Homo sapiens: one gene and its partners. The protein of the gene in region 1 interacts with the protein of each later gene in a pairwise test. Each region holds a gene or a part of one and is shown in the gene's direction. Other genes may lie near its edges.

Evidence for each region. The genes of interacting proteins can lie anywhere in the genome.
Region 2: the proteins of GRIPAP1 (region 1) and ZNF219 interact in binary tests that used the Homo sapiens proteins (3 or more experiments, as listed by UniProt).
Region 3: the proteins of GRIPAP1 (region 1) and ELOA interact in binary tests that used the Homo sapiens proteins (3 or more experiments, as listed by UniProt).
Region 4: the proteins of GRIPAP1 (region 1) and TSNAX interact in binary tests that used the Homo sapiens proteins (3 or more experiments, as listed by UniProt).

The regions. Positions count from the first base shown.
Region 1 is NC_000023.11:48,992,265-48,995,764, reverse strand, and holds part of GRIPAP1 (GRIP1-associated protein 1), read left to right. Parts: intron 1-2,186; coding exon 2,187-2,337; intron 2,338-3,500. UniProt on the Homo sapiens protein: Regulates the endosomal recycling back to the neuronal plasma membrane, possibly by connecting early and late recycling endosomal domains and promoting segregation of recycling endosomes from early endosomal membranes.
Region 2 is NC_000014.9:21,092,617-21,095,655, reverse strand, and holds part of ZNF219 (zinc finger protein 219), read left to right. Parts: intron 1-1,981; 5' UTR 1,982-2,064; coding exon 2,065-2,070; intron 2,071-2,365; coding exon 2,366-3,039. UniProt on the Homo sapiens protein: Transcriptional regulator. Recognizes and binds 2 copies of the core DNA sequence motif 5'-GGGGG-3'. Binds to the HMGN1 promoter and may repress HMGN1 expression. Regulates SNCA expression in primary cortical neurons.
Region 3 is NC_000001.11:23,753,471-23,756,970, forward strand, and holds part of ELOA (elongin-A), read left to right. Parts: intron 1-629; coding exon 630-785; intron 786-892; coding exon 893-990; intron 991-2,372; coding exon 2,373-2,553; intron 2,554-2,803; coding exon 2,804-2,915; intron 2,916-3,482; coding exon 3,483-3,500. UniProt on the Homo sapiens protein: SIII, also known as elongin, is a general transcription elongation factor that increases the RNA polymerase II transcription elongation past template-encoded arresting sites.
Region 4 is NC_000001.11:231,563,169-231,566,668, forward strand, and holds the end of TSNAX (translin-associated protein X), read left to right. Parts: intron 1-1,359; coding exon 1,360-1,737; 3' UTR 1,738-3,356; downstream 3,357-3,500.

The DNA.
Region 1 (3,500 bases):
AATTAGCCGGGTGTGGTGGCACGTGCCTGTAGTCCCAGCTACTCGGGAGGCTGAGGCAGGAGAATCGCTTGAACCCGGGAGGCGGAGGTTGTAGTGAGCCAAGATTGCACCACTGCACTCCAGCCTGGGCGACAGAGCAAGACTCTGTCTCAATTTAAAAAAAAAAAGTTTTATATCCACCCTGTGGCCCTGCTTTGCCTTAGCCTCTACCACTTATCATCTGCTGTTTCTACAGCCGCCTCCCTGGTCTCTTCACTTCTAGTTTCTTCTACTTAGTTCACACCACAGAGGCTGTTCTGACCTGCAGATCTTATGACATCACTCCTTTACTTAATACATTCCAGTGCCCCAGTCCTGCTCCTAGTTCAGAGCCCCTGGTATTCACATAACTGCTGGCTTCACTGACTGACTCCTCACTGCTTCCTGCCTCCAGCCTCCATGGTATCATGATTCTTGCAGAGTGAGGCAGGGGCAGACATTCTTCCATAAATCCAGCTTGTTTCCCTGCATCTGCCCTGGGCCAGCACTGGGCTAGTCGTAGAGACTTCCTACATAGTCCCCTTCCTCCTCCAACTCCTCCCAGGAACTGGAAGTGCTCTCAGAGAGAGCTACGTTAAACCTGCCACCACCCCTTATTCATCAAGACATTTCAGCTTAATTGTTCCTTCGACAAATAGTTACTGAGTACCCACCACATGCTCTATGTTCTGGAAATACAGTTGTAAGCAGCACAGAATGATCTCCACTCTTGGGTAGCTTACATTCTGGGGGTGGGATGAGGAGAAAGATGATAACAGTAAACAAATAATACTAGTAGTGATAGCTGACATTTATATGGTGCTTACTGTGTGCCAAGTCCTGTTTGAAGTACTCTACATTATTCACTCATTTAATCTTTGAAATAAGCCTATGAGATATTAGTATCCCTATCTGACAGATGAGGAAAACTGAGTTCCAGGGAGATTAAGTAATTTGTCACACAGCTAGTAAATGGCAGAGCAGAAATTCACATTCAAGCAGTCTGGTTTCAGAATCTGTGCTTGTTACAAAAGAAAATTTTGATTAGTACTAGGTAAGAAAGAAATGAACAGTGCTGTGACAGAGAGTACTGGAATTTTCTGTGTTGAGGGATACTACTTTAAAGGCAACATCTGAGCAGAGCACTGAGGGATGCAAAGAAGCCAGTTAGGTGAAGAACTGGATGAGAGGATTGGTGTTCTGGGTAGAAAATATTGCAAGCAGGCCGGGTGCGGTGGCTCATGCCTGTAATCCCAGCACTTTGGGAGGCCGAGGCAGGTGGATCACCTGAGGTCAGGAGTTCAAGACCAGCCTGGCCAACATGGCGAAACCCCGTCTCTAATAAGAATACAAAAATTAGCCGGGCACGGTGGCGCATGCCTGTAGTCCCAGCTACTCAGGAGGCTGAGGCAGGAGAATCACTTGAACCCGGGTGGCGGAGGTTGCAGTGGGCTGAAATCGTGCCACTGTACTCCAGGCTGGGTGACAGAGCGAGACTCCATCTCAAAAAAAAAAAAAAAAAAAAAAGAAAGAAAATATTGCAGGCAATAAAATAAAAATTCTCTGTAGGCCTCGATATTCTCATCTGAAAATGGGGACAAGGAATTTTCTCAGGACTGCTTTGAGAAGTGTACTTCAGCCAGGAGTTGGGCAGGGGGCTGGCTTAGTTGTATTGGCATTGTATACCTCTCCAAGACTAACGGCTGGCAATGCAGGAGCTGTCATCAGTGTTGGCCCTGGAAATGCCCTGCGAGCTCTTTGTGGTGCTTAGGATGAGAGGGAGCTATCTCTGGGCCCAGGATCCAGCCCTCCACAGAAGAGGGGTTGCAGTGAGGCTGTCTGTAGCACTAACAACTTCCAGAGGAGCCTGAGGTCTTGGATTGCATCTCTGAGGTTGGGAGTAGGAAGAGGAAAATGGTTTTTGGTGTCCTCATACTTGGTATGCTCTTGGTATTCTCTGACTCTGCCACTTAAAAGATGTGTGAATTTGAACTTGTTTAACATCTCTGTGCCTCAATGTCCTTATTTGTAAAGTGGGAGGGCACCTATATCATAGGGTCATTATGGGAATTAAGTGAATTGTAAAGTACATGGACAAATGCTATGTAGGTTTCAGCAAATACTGCTCTGATTCTCTGCTTCTCTGCCCCTTCTCTTCCTCTGTTCAGCTCTGCAGCCAGATGGAACAGCTGGAGCAAGAGAACCAGCAACTGAAGGAGGGGGCTGCAGGAGCAGGGGTTGCCCAAGCTGGGCCCCTCGTGGATGGGGAGCTGCTGAGGCTACAGGCTGAAAACACAGCCTTGCAGAAGAACGTGGCAGGTGCATAGAGGCCCTCCTGGGGATGCGGAGACATTGGGGCTTGAGTAGGGCAAGGAAGGCCGTCATCCTCTCAGGGGAAGGAGAAGGGCTTCAGAAATAGGGTTGGCCCATGCCCTGTGTGGCTTTGGACAAGCCATTTCACCTCTCTGAGCCAAAGCCTTATCATCTACACAGTGCATGTAGTGATGTCTGTCACCCAGAAGATTGTAGTAGAGATAAAAGGTGATATCATTCTGCATTAGTTCAGTGTCTGGTACCTAGCAGATGTTACAGATTAGCAGCTTGAATGTCAAAAAGGAGATATTTGCGGCCGGGCGCGGTGGCTCACGCCTGTAATCCCAGCACTTTGGGAGGCTGAGGCGGGCGGATTGCGAGGTCAGCAGATCAAGACCATCCTGGCTAACATGGTGAAACCCCGTCTCTACTAGAAATACAGAAAATTGGCCGGGCACGGTGGCGGGCGCCTGTAGTCCCAGCTACTCTGGAGGCTGAGGCAGGAGAATGGTGTGAACCTGGGAGGTGGAGCTTGCAGTGAGCCGAGATCACACCACTGCACTCCAGCCTGGGCGACAGAGCGAGACTCCATCTCAAAAAAAAAAAGGAGATATTTGCTAAGTGAAAAAGTGAATGGAGTGTTGGGAAGATTCTGAGCCCAGATTGTAAGTGGGGTCTGGGATGAAAGCTGAAAGAAAGCTTGATAGAGTGTGGGAGCATGTGGTGTGTGGAACTTTGGAGAGCAGCTGGGACTTCTGTGGTGATGGATGCTGGTTCCATGACCAGGAGGGAGACTTAGTAGAATGTGAGTAGGAATTAGGAGGCTCTAGGAGGGATTCAGCTGTAAGTCAGTGGTAGCATATGGTGGGCATGGCCTTCAAGGGCTATGGGTGGGGCTTCAAGGATTGAGAATGGGATTTGTGAAACCAGCTTGGGCTAATTTAATAGTAAACAGAATCTTAGTGGTTGATAGGGCTTAAAATATTTGTGAGAGCCTGGGCACAGTGGCTCATACCTTGATTCCAGCACTCTGGGAGGCTGAGGCAGAAGGATCTCTTGAGGCTAGGAGTTTAAGACCAGCCTAGGCAACATAGCAGGAACTTGTGTGTACTAAAAATAAAATAATTAGGCCAGGCACGGTGTTTCACACCTGTAATCCTAGCACTTTG
Region 2 (3,039 bases), on another chromosome or scaffold:
AGGTGGCCCAAGTGGCTTCTGTGGTAGCCCACTGCACTCTCCATGGTACTGAAGGGATGACCATTTGTTTTAACATCTCTCTGGGGTCCAAAAGAGTCCTGTGACTTAGAATCACAAACTTTTTTCGAGCAGGAAGGGACTAACACTATAAATTAGTCCAATCCCCTTATTTTACTGATGAGTAAACTGGGAGGTTAAGTGATTTAGTAAAGGTTGTAGGGTTATCAATGTTCAGACTAGGCCTACAATAGCCTTGTACCCTTCAGTCCTATTCTAATTCACCTTTTGTGACACTATTCAGTAAGCCTGGCTAGGCTCTTAGTCCCAGGAAAGGATCCAGAGGATGAGAGTGGGTGCCCTAATTTGAAGCTACAGAAATACACATATTAAGTGGTAGTGGAGGTCGTCTAGTGACCCTTGGACAAGGACACTTTGTTAATTAATCATCTGCTAATAATAATCCTATAGCCCAGATTCCACATGTAACAGGTACCTGCCCCTTCATGGAGTTTTACCACATCCACTAAATGTCAAAAATTAAAGAAGCCTTGGACCTCCAGAGCCTTTTCTCTCTGCTGACAGGCAGGTTGACTCCTGGCACAGTTCTTTTCTATTAAAGATCCTTAGGCAAAGTAATGCTTGCATCTTTTTCTTTCTCAGTAACCCATTTCAGTTTTGTGATGCCTATTGTAAGGAAGTTCTTTATATCTCAAATATCCTTTCTTAGACAAAAAAAAAAAAAAAAAAAGGTTAGACCCACATTCATTTAGCCTTGACCAGATACTATTCTATATGAGGCAGAAAGGTAGACTAGATGACTTCTGGTCATCCTCCCAGGTCTGTTTCCATGAATCTTGATTCTGGGGTTTCTTCTAAGTCCTCATGCTAAACTCCTCTGCAGCTTAGGATCAGCACCCGCCCCCCCCCCCAACCCCTATCCTCTTCCTCTCAATGATCTTCTCCTTCCCCAGCACTGGAGCTCTGCAAGTCCCAGGCCTAGGGAATTTTAGCCTGGAGAATTTTAACCCTTTCCTGCTCAGAGCATGTGCTGAGTCCCTATCTGTGCAGATGGCCCAGCCCCGCCCCCCGTCCCTCACTCCAGCCTCTTGAGCTCAGAGCCAGTGTAATCCTCCTCTTGTGTGAGGGAGCCTCTCCCCTGCAGAGAGGAGGAAAGCCTGCCTCGGAACAGCCCTGGACAAAGGGGCTCAGATGCCCCATCATACTGCAGGCTCCAAGGTTTGAAACAAGGGGATGAATCCTATACGGTATTTGCAGTTTTTAGCCCCTTCCCCAGGCTAGCTGTGCCCCTTAACTTCCACTCCTCCCCCAACTCTCTCTTCATTCCCTCTCCCTCTGGCTCCCTCCCCCTTCATGCCCCTCCCCCTCTGTCTGTCTTCAGACTCTGCTGCTGGGAGGTGTTTCTCTCCCATGCATGAATGAGTCTCTGTAATGAATGGAAATGAATGGATCAGGAATCCAGGCGGAGGGAGGGAGAATGAGGGGGGAAAGACAGAAAGACAGGGTAAGGGCAGAAGGAAGCACTGTGGAACCTGGAAGGATGTTTGGCTGGCTGCTCAGTTAGGGATCTCAGAGCAACTGGTCCCACTTGGATAAATGGGGAGCATGGCAAGCCCACCTCATTTGCTCACCACACTGCATAGCCCAACCTACATGGGAGAGGGGCATATTGTGATGGTCTTCCCCACCGCCAGGGGGTGGGGTGGTAGCTGTGGTTGTTCTGGACCATGCATTTAAAATATAGAATTTGGGGAAGAAATCTGGATTATCTGGGAGGCTTGTAGGCTTGGCAAGTCAAGAGGTACAGTTTTTGAGTATAGCAGCCCCTTCGTGCCTCAAGAAGCAAGTAGGGAGAATGGATTGGTTTTGGGAATACAGAATGCTGAGAGTCTGGGGGTAGGGAGTGACTTTACTGCTGAAAACTAGGGCTCATCTTTTCCTCCAAATCTGTCTCTTGCTTTAGCTCCACAGCACCTGTTGCCTTCATTAGCAGCTTTTCCTCCTCTTCCCTGCACTTCCCAGAACCAAAGAATGTGAAGGGGGTCCATGGAGGTGAGTGAAGCTCTGGCTTCAACCTACAAGTACCTACAACTGTATACTCCCTCTCCTGCCTACCTCTCTCTCTCTTTGACCTCCCATTATTAGAAGTTAACTCCTTGGCCCTGACATCTCGATTCCCATACACCTCCCCCCACCCCATCTTCCCGAGGTGAGTAGCACCCTGTGTTCCTAGTTCAGGCCCCAGCCCACCTTCCCTCGTGTTGTCCTTCTGGCCCTCGAGGCGACGCCCTTGCTTCCTTTACAGCTCTACCTTCACCCTTTGCTCTACGCAGATCTTTCTCCACAGGGCTCACGTCCCCGCGCCCCGAGCGGCCACTTAGCGCCGTCGCCGCCGGCTTTCGACGGCGAGCTGGATCTGCAGCGATACTCCAACGGGCCAGCCGTGAGCGCAGGGTCGCTCGGGATGGGAGCGGTGAGCTGGTCTGAGAGTCGTGCAGGCGAACGGCGCTTCCCCTGCCCTGTATGCGGGAAGCGCTTCCGCTTCAACTCTATCCTTGCTTTGCACCTGCGGGCGCACCCAGGAGCCCAGGCCTTCCAGTGCCCTCACTGCGGCCACCGCGCGGCGCAGCGGGCTCTGCTGCGCTCGCACCTGCGCACACACCAGCCCGAGCGCCCACGTAGTCCTGCTGCACGCCTGTTGCTGGAGTTGGAAGAGCGCGCGCTACTACGCGAGGCCCGACTGGGGAGAGCCCGAAGCTCAGGGGGCATGCAGGCCACCCCTGCCACTGAGGGTCTGGCGCGGCCCCAGGCTCCTTCATCGTCCGCCTTCCGTTGCCCCTACTGCAAAGGCAAGTTTCGCACCTCGGCGGAGCGCGAACGCCACCTGCACATCCTGCATAGGCCCTGGAAGTGCGGCCTGTGCAGTTTCGGCTCCAGCCAGGAGGAGGAGCTGCTGCACCACAGCCTGACGGCCCACGGGGCTCCCGAGCGTCCCCTGGCGGCCACCTCCGCTGCGCCTCC
Region 3 (3,500 bases), on another chromosome or scaffold:
TTTTGTCTGAAAGAAAAAAATGTCTAATTTTCATAGCAAAAGAAGTAGAAGCCACATAAGGGTCTATCAGCAGGAGACTAACAGATAAATCATGGTTCATCTACACAGTGGCATCCTATGCCACAGTAAAAAAAAAATGTGGAAAGTCTATGCACTGACATGGAATGATCTCTCAGATGTGGCAAATGAAAAAAAGCAATGTATGTAGTGAGTATGTTATTAATTGATTCATTGGCTTAAAAGGAATAAGATACATTTGCTTTTTTTTGTTGTTGCTGTTGAGAGTCTTGCTGTGTTACTCAGGCTGGAGTGCAGTAGCTCCATCTTGGCTCACTGCAGCCTCCACCTCCTAGGTTCAAGCAATTCCTCTGCCTCAGCCTCCTGAGTAGCTGGGACTACAGGTGCATGTTGGGCAGGCTGATCTCGAACTCTTGACCTCAGATGATTCATGTGCCTTGGCCTCCTAAAGTGCTGGGATTACAGGAGCTTATTTTTAAATTCTCTGGAAGGATCTACAAAAATCTGTAGCGTGGATTGCCATTGGGAAAGGGAAGTAGGAGGCTGAAGGGGGTAGAAGGAGAGTTTTCACTGGATCACTTAGGGCCTTTTGTGTTTTTCTTGCCCTATAGCGTTCTCTTCACCCCAGGAAGAAGAAGAAGCTGGATTTACTGGGCGCAGAATGAATTCCAAGATGCAGGTGTATTCTGGTTCCAAGTGTGCCTATCTCCCTAAAATGATGACCTTGCACCAGCAATGCATCCGAGTACTTAAAAACAACATCGATTGTAAGTCACACGCTTCTCTCTAGCTCTCAAGCACATTGTAGCACTTGGACCTTATCACTGGGTGGCTTGGCTGCTACTCAGTGTCTTCACCTTTGGTTTCTCTGCAGCAATCTTTGAAGTGGGAGGAGTCCCATACTCTGTTCTTGAACCCGTTTTGGAGAGGTGTACACCTGATCAGCTGTATCGCATAGAGGAATACAATCATGTGAGTATTCTGTTTGGGTGGGAAGAGGGCAGTTTTCTGGCTTGTACCTCCAGAAATAGCTTTGTCCCTGTGACTCCGCTGTGGCTGAAGGGCAGATCAGTGGTCAGAGCATTGTTCTGGATATATTTGGTTTGCCACTGGGCCTTTAAACAAGCATGTTATTAGCACTTGCTCCTGGCACCTTAAGTGGGCCTCTTGGGCTAGGATCAGGGTGGGATTCAAAGGGAGAAGAAAAACACTTAACATCTCCCTTGAGCTTGCCTAGTCATGAAGGTAAAGGGAGAATTCTGGCAGCAGAGTAGCTGGGACCCAGGGCGGGGAAAGCACTTTGTGTTGACACTCTGACATCTGGTGATTGGCTGGATGTCTCTTAAGAAACATCAAGATTTATCCAGAATCCTCCTTAGGATGTAGGGTATACACATTTGATTGCATCAGCTGTCTCTCTTTAATTCTGAAAGTTCTATGACCTAACACCTTTTTTTTTTTTTTTGGAGATAGGGTCTACCTCTGTTGCTTCGACTGCAGTACAGAGGCCTAATCATGGCTTACTGCATCCTTGAACTCCTGGGCTTAAGTGATCCTCCCAAGTAGCTGGGACTACAGGCACATACCACCACAGCTGGCTAATATTTTTATTTTTTAGAGAGATGGACTCTCAGACTCTTGGCCTCCTGAAGTGCTGGGATTACAGGCATGAGCCAACGCGCCTGGCCAATAACTTAACATCCTTCTTAGGTTGCCCCTTTGCCATCACAGTTCAGCGTAGTGTTGGGAAGTACCTGATTTGACTTGATCGCAGTTCTACCCTTTGCTGATTTTCTAAAGGAAAAGACTGATGTTACACAGATTTTTGTGATATTCTGTCACAGCCACCAAAAGCAACTAGCATAGTGCCTCACACTTCGCATTTTTAAAATTTAGGGAGTTATTTTTTTCCTAGAATTGTGGTATTTTAACATACTACTAAGATGAAGACCAAAAAATTTTTGGGAAACTGGTCACTCCTAGGTAATTAAATAATCAGAAAAAGATATGAGGCTGGGCATGGTGACACACGCCTGTAATCCCAGCACTCTGGGAGGCCAAGGTGGGCGGATTATCTGAGGTCAGGAGTTCGAGACCAGCCTGGACAACATGGCAAAACCCCATCTCTACTGAAAATATAAAATAGCTGGGCGTGGTGGTAAGCACCTGTAGTCCTGGCTACTTGAGAGGCTGAGGCGTGAGAATCGCTTGAACCCAGGAGGCAAGGGTTGCAGTGAACCAAAATTGCACCACTGCACTGCAGTCTACACGACAGAGCAAGACTCTGTCTCAAAAAAAAAAAAAAAATATGGAAAAGTGCTTGTACACAAATGATGTCCTGGTTCTGGTTTCAGGTATTAATTGAAGAAACAGATCAATTATGGAAAGTTCATTGTCACCGAGACTTTAAGGAAGAAAGACCCGAAGAGTATGAGTCGTGGCGAGAGATGTACCTGCGGCTTCAGGACGCCCGAGAGCAGCGGCTACGAGTACTAACAAAGAATATCCAGTTCGCACATGCCAATAAGCCCAAAGGTAACAGAGACGGGAGAGCTGGGGGAGAACTGGCAGGATGAGTGTTCTGGTCAATAGCAGGGTGTTGGTGGGCTTGGCTGGTGTAGGACTGCTTGCCCCTACATCAGGTAGCAGGGTGGGTATTTCTTCTGCCACCGCCCATTCTACCCTACAAGTGGGGTTTCAGGGCACTCAAAAAGCCCGTGGATTATTTAAATAACAGTAGCATCTCTGCTCAAGAAGGCAGATGTTCATCTCCATAATTCCACAGGCCGACAAGCAAAGATGGCCTTTGTCAACTCTGTGGCCAAGCCACCTCGTGACGTCCGGAGGAGGCAGGAAAAGTTTGGAACGGGAGGAGCAGCTGTCCCTGAGAAAATCAAGTAAGATCTGTGTTCTTACCTGGCTTTTGTGTGCTATCAACCCTTAGAGGTAGCCATAGCGGCAGGAAGCAAATTGCTTTTGGTGAAAGTGAGGCAGTGCAGACTGTGGGCTCTGGAGGCAGACCTCATCAGCTCAGCACTTCCCTCACCTCCCTCAGCCTCCGCTTCTTGGACTGCAGTGCAAGGTGATAATTACCCCTGCCCTAGGGTAGTCAAGATTAAATGGAGAGCAAAGCCTGGCTTATGGGAAACATTCCCTTATGCTTTCCCTTTTCCCATCTAAACAAAAAACACATTTCTGCAATGATTGTTATTTTGTCTAAGCCACATTAGCCTTTTCAAAATACAGATTTATACCAAAACAGTGAAAAGTTAGTTGAGATTATCATTTTTTCTGAAAGGATAATGGAGACATCTCTGAGCCACCACCAGAATCCAGGGTGATAGGGTCCATTGGTCAAAGCCACAAACAGGGTGAGTCATCCTCACACAGGCCAGCTTCAGGCTGTTCATGCTCAGGGCAGATTTCTTGTGCTCATGCCTAACCAGTGTTGTCCTGTGTTGCAGGATCAAGCCAGCCCCGTA
Region 4 (3,500 bases), on another chromosome or scaffold:
TTACCTGTATGCCTTTGTAGTTCCCACTACCTAAAATGTCCTTTGATGTAACTGCAACTTCACCTACCCTTTTATACATACCGTCTTTTAATAACAATTTAGGCATCGTCTCTACCAGAAAGAATTCAGTAGAGGGAAATTGATGTGGAGAGAGATTTCATGATGATATCATGATAGCAGCTAGCATTTGTTGAATATTTACTTTGTGTTGGGCATTATGCCAAGAACTTGGTAAATGTTCTCATTTAACCCTTAAAATAAACCTCTGAGGTAGGTACTGTTATCCCATTTTACAGATGAGGAAACTGAGGTTTAGAGAGATGAAATAACTTGCCCAAGGGCATACACCTTATGAAGCAAGGTCCTGGAAGAGGTGGGAGGAGATGGGTCAAGGTCATTTGGAAGAGTTAACCTCAAACAAGAGGAGGGACAACTCATCATCTGAGACTGGAGGATAGAAGGTAAAGATGGGTGTGGATATAAATTTTTTTTTTTTTTTTTTTTGGTAGGGATAAAGGCAGTTGTGAGAAATTGTGCTAGGTAAGCTGGCAAATGACCAGGTCACTGAAATTGGGCAAGGTTGTCTACTGAAAGTGAAGAGGTTTGGGATTTGAGTAGAGCCCTGAGGAGAGTGGTGAAAGGTTTGAAATTGTGTTTGAAGAGGCTGGAAAGAGAACCATCTAATGATAAGTAAAAGGATTGGAGAGTAATTTGTAGCGGTACAGACTCTGCAGTTGTGATTACCATTTTTTTTTAACTCAGTGAGTGGTACTCAGCCACCTGAATAAAGGACTAATGAGTATATTTTAGTATTGATTGAGGATTCTGTTTTTGCTGGGTAGGTGCAGTAGAAAATATAGCAGTCTAAGGGAATTGAGGATGCAGTGAGAGAATAATAAATTGTGATGGTGAGTGCTGAATAGGGAAAGACAAGAAGCCAGAAAAAGACTGAGCTTCTTAGGAAAACATTAATGGATCACAAACTTGGAGGGCTGTATGGTTTTTCATTTAAGAAAGTAATTGTCGTGCAATAAAGTTATTAAGCCTTGTTCAAGAATATTTTTATTTTGTACATCAAGTGGAGTTGGAAATAGTTGGTTTCATAATGATATATTTCAAAAGTATCTTGAAGTCATCTGGTTCATTTCACTACCCAGGGCACACATTCCTCCTGTAACATCCCAAGTGGTTATTAAGCAAAACAGATTTATTTTATTTAGAAAAAATTAGTATGACTGATTTGCTATTGATTTTGTACTTCTATAATAAATGTGATACATGCTATATTCACTCTTTTTCACAGTGTTCTTTCTTGTGTGTGTGTGTGTGTGTTTTTGTTTTGTTTTGTTTTTTTACCAGCCCTCCTCTGATGCACAGGATAAGCAGTTTGGTACTTGGAGACTGAGAGTCACACCTGTCGATTACCTTCTGGGAGTGGCTGACTTAACTGGAGAATTGATGCGGATGTGTATTAACAGTGTGGGGAATGGGGACATTGATACCCCCTTTGAAGTGAGCCAGTTTTTACGTCAGGTTTATGATGGGTTTTCATTCATTGGCAACACTGGACCTTACGAGGTTTCTAAGAAGCTGTATACCTTGAAACAAAGTTTGGCCAAAGTGGAGAATGCTTGTTATGCCTTGAAAGTCAGAGGGTCAGAAATTCCAAAACATATGTTGGCAGATGTGTTTTCAGTTAAAACAGAAATGATAGATCAAGAAGAGGGCATTTCTTAGAATCTAACGTTACTCAGTTACTAATTCTTTTGAGAACTCCTAAGAGACCAATTTGTAAGACTTATTTAGTATTTCATTTAACTTTATTGTGGCTTTTACATAGAAACATATTCAGTTGTACTTGTTTTAAATTGTATACAAGCTGTACATAAAATTAGCCAAATGAATCATTTCTTATATCTTATTCATGAAAGTTTGCATACAGATGTTTGCATATATGCCTTTTTGAATTTTTGCTGGTTAACCTTTATCATTTATCTTTGTAATGTGAACATGCTTCAGAGTGTACCTTTTGCCATAACCTATTTTAATTTACTTTTTCTGAAGTTTGGAGTGATAATTTTTAGTGGAAGCAATTTGTAATTTAAGTTGGTAGTTATATTATATATAGAAAAGATTTTTTAGTTAAACTTCTGGACATGAGCGTCCTGTTTAAATTTCTTGTTAATATCGTGCCAAGCCTCAAAAATAGGCTTATTCCATGGAACAAGAATTAAAAATGAATAAGCTATCAATATATAATTTAAGTACAAGTTTAGGCTGGGCGTGGTGGCTCACGCCTGTAATCCCAGCACTTTGGGAGGCCGAGGTAGGCAGATCACGAGGTCAAGAGATCAAGACCAGCCTGACCAACGTGGCGAAACCTCGTCTCTACTAGAAATACAAAAATTAGCTGGATATGGTGGTATGTGCCTGTAATCCCAGCTACTTGGGAGGCTGAGGCAGGAGACTCGCTTGAACCTGGGAGGCAGAGGTTGCAGTGAGCCGAGATTGCGCCACTGCACTCCAGCCTGGGTAACAGAGCAAGACTCCATCTCAAAAAAAGAAAGAAAGAAAAAAGAAAGTACAAGTTTATAAAGTATTATAGTGAAAAATTCGCATTCTGGCTGATTTTAAGCCATTTAAAATTTATATAAAACAACCTTCCATAAAAATTTGACAGGTGCCCAGATGTTGCTTTCTCCATTTATTTTTTGTTTTTTTTTAATCACAGTAGGTCTGATAGAGAATTGGAGCTAAATTATAATATTTTTGTTGGTAAAGTTGAGTTATATACTTGTACATACAATGGAAATGCTTTTAGTAGTGATTATTTAGCAATTTTTGTTTTTGTTATATTAGGCATGTTTGGAGGCTTTCCTATTCTAGCATTTAAATTTAAATTTTATTAAAATTAAATAATTTAAATCTAGCATTTAAATTTAAATAATTTAAGTCTAGCATTTACTTTTAAATAATTATAATGAAGTTTTGAAATACTAAGTTAATCCAGACCTTTAGTTGTCCCATGGTGTTAATAAAGTTGCCAAAGAAGATGTATTATGAACAATTCAGCAATAAGACAATTGTCAACACAGTTGAGAATAACAATGGTAATCGTTAGTAATATTTAGAATTGGAATTTGCCTACTGAAATAGTTATAGATGATTACTTGTGATGTGAAACTGAATTGAGCATGACAACCAGACATTTCCAGTTGGTTTTGTAAGTTTTGAGAATCTAGATACTGGGTTTTATTTTTTGAAAGATTAGCTCTGTTTGTAAGGGCTGATTCCTTGAAAATGTAATTTTCCAGAAAAACACCTAAAGAAAATAAAACATGGACATGCCTAGTAAATTCTGTTTTTTTGTTTGTTCGTGTTAGTGATGGTGGGTTTTTTGGTTTTGCAACTCACCTGTAGTCAACTCACTACAGGTGAGTTGGTGCCATTGCTACTGATATATCTCCACAGTTCATGTCATACTAATACTGTGGGTGTTA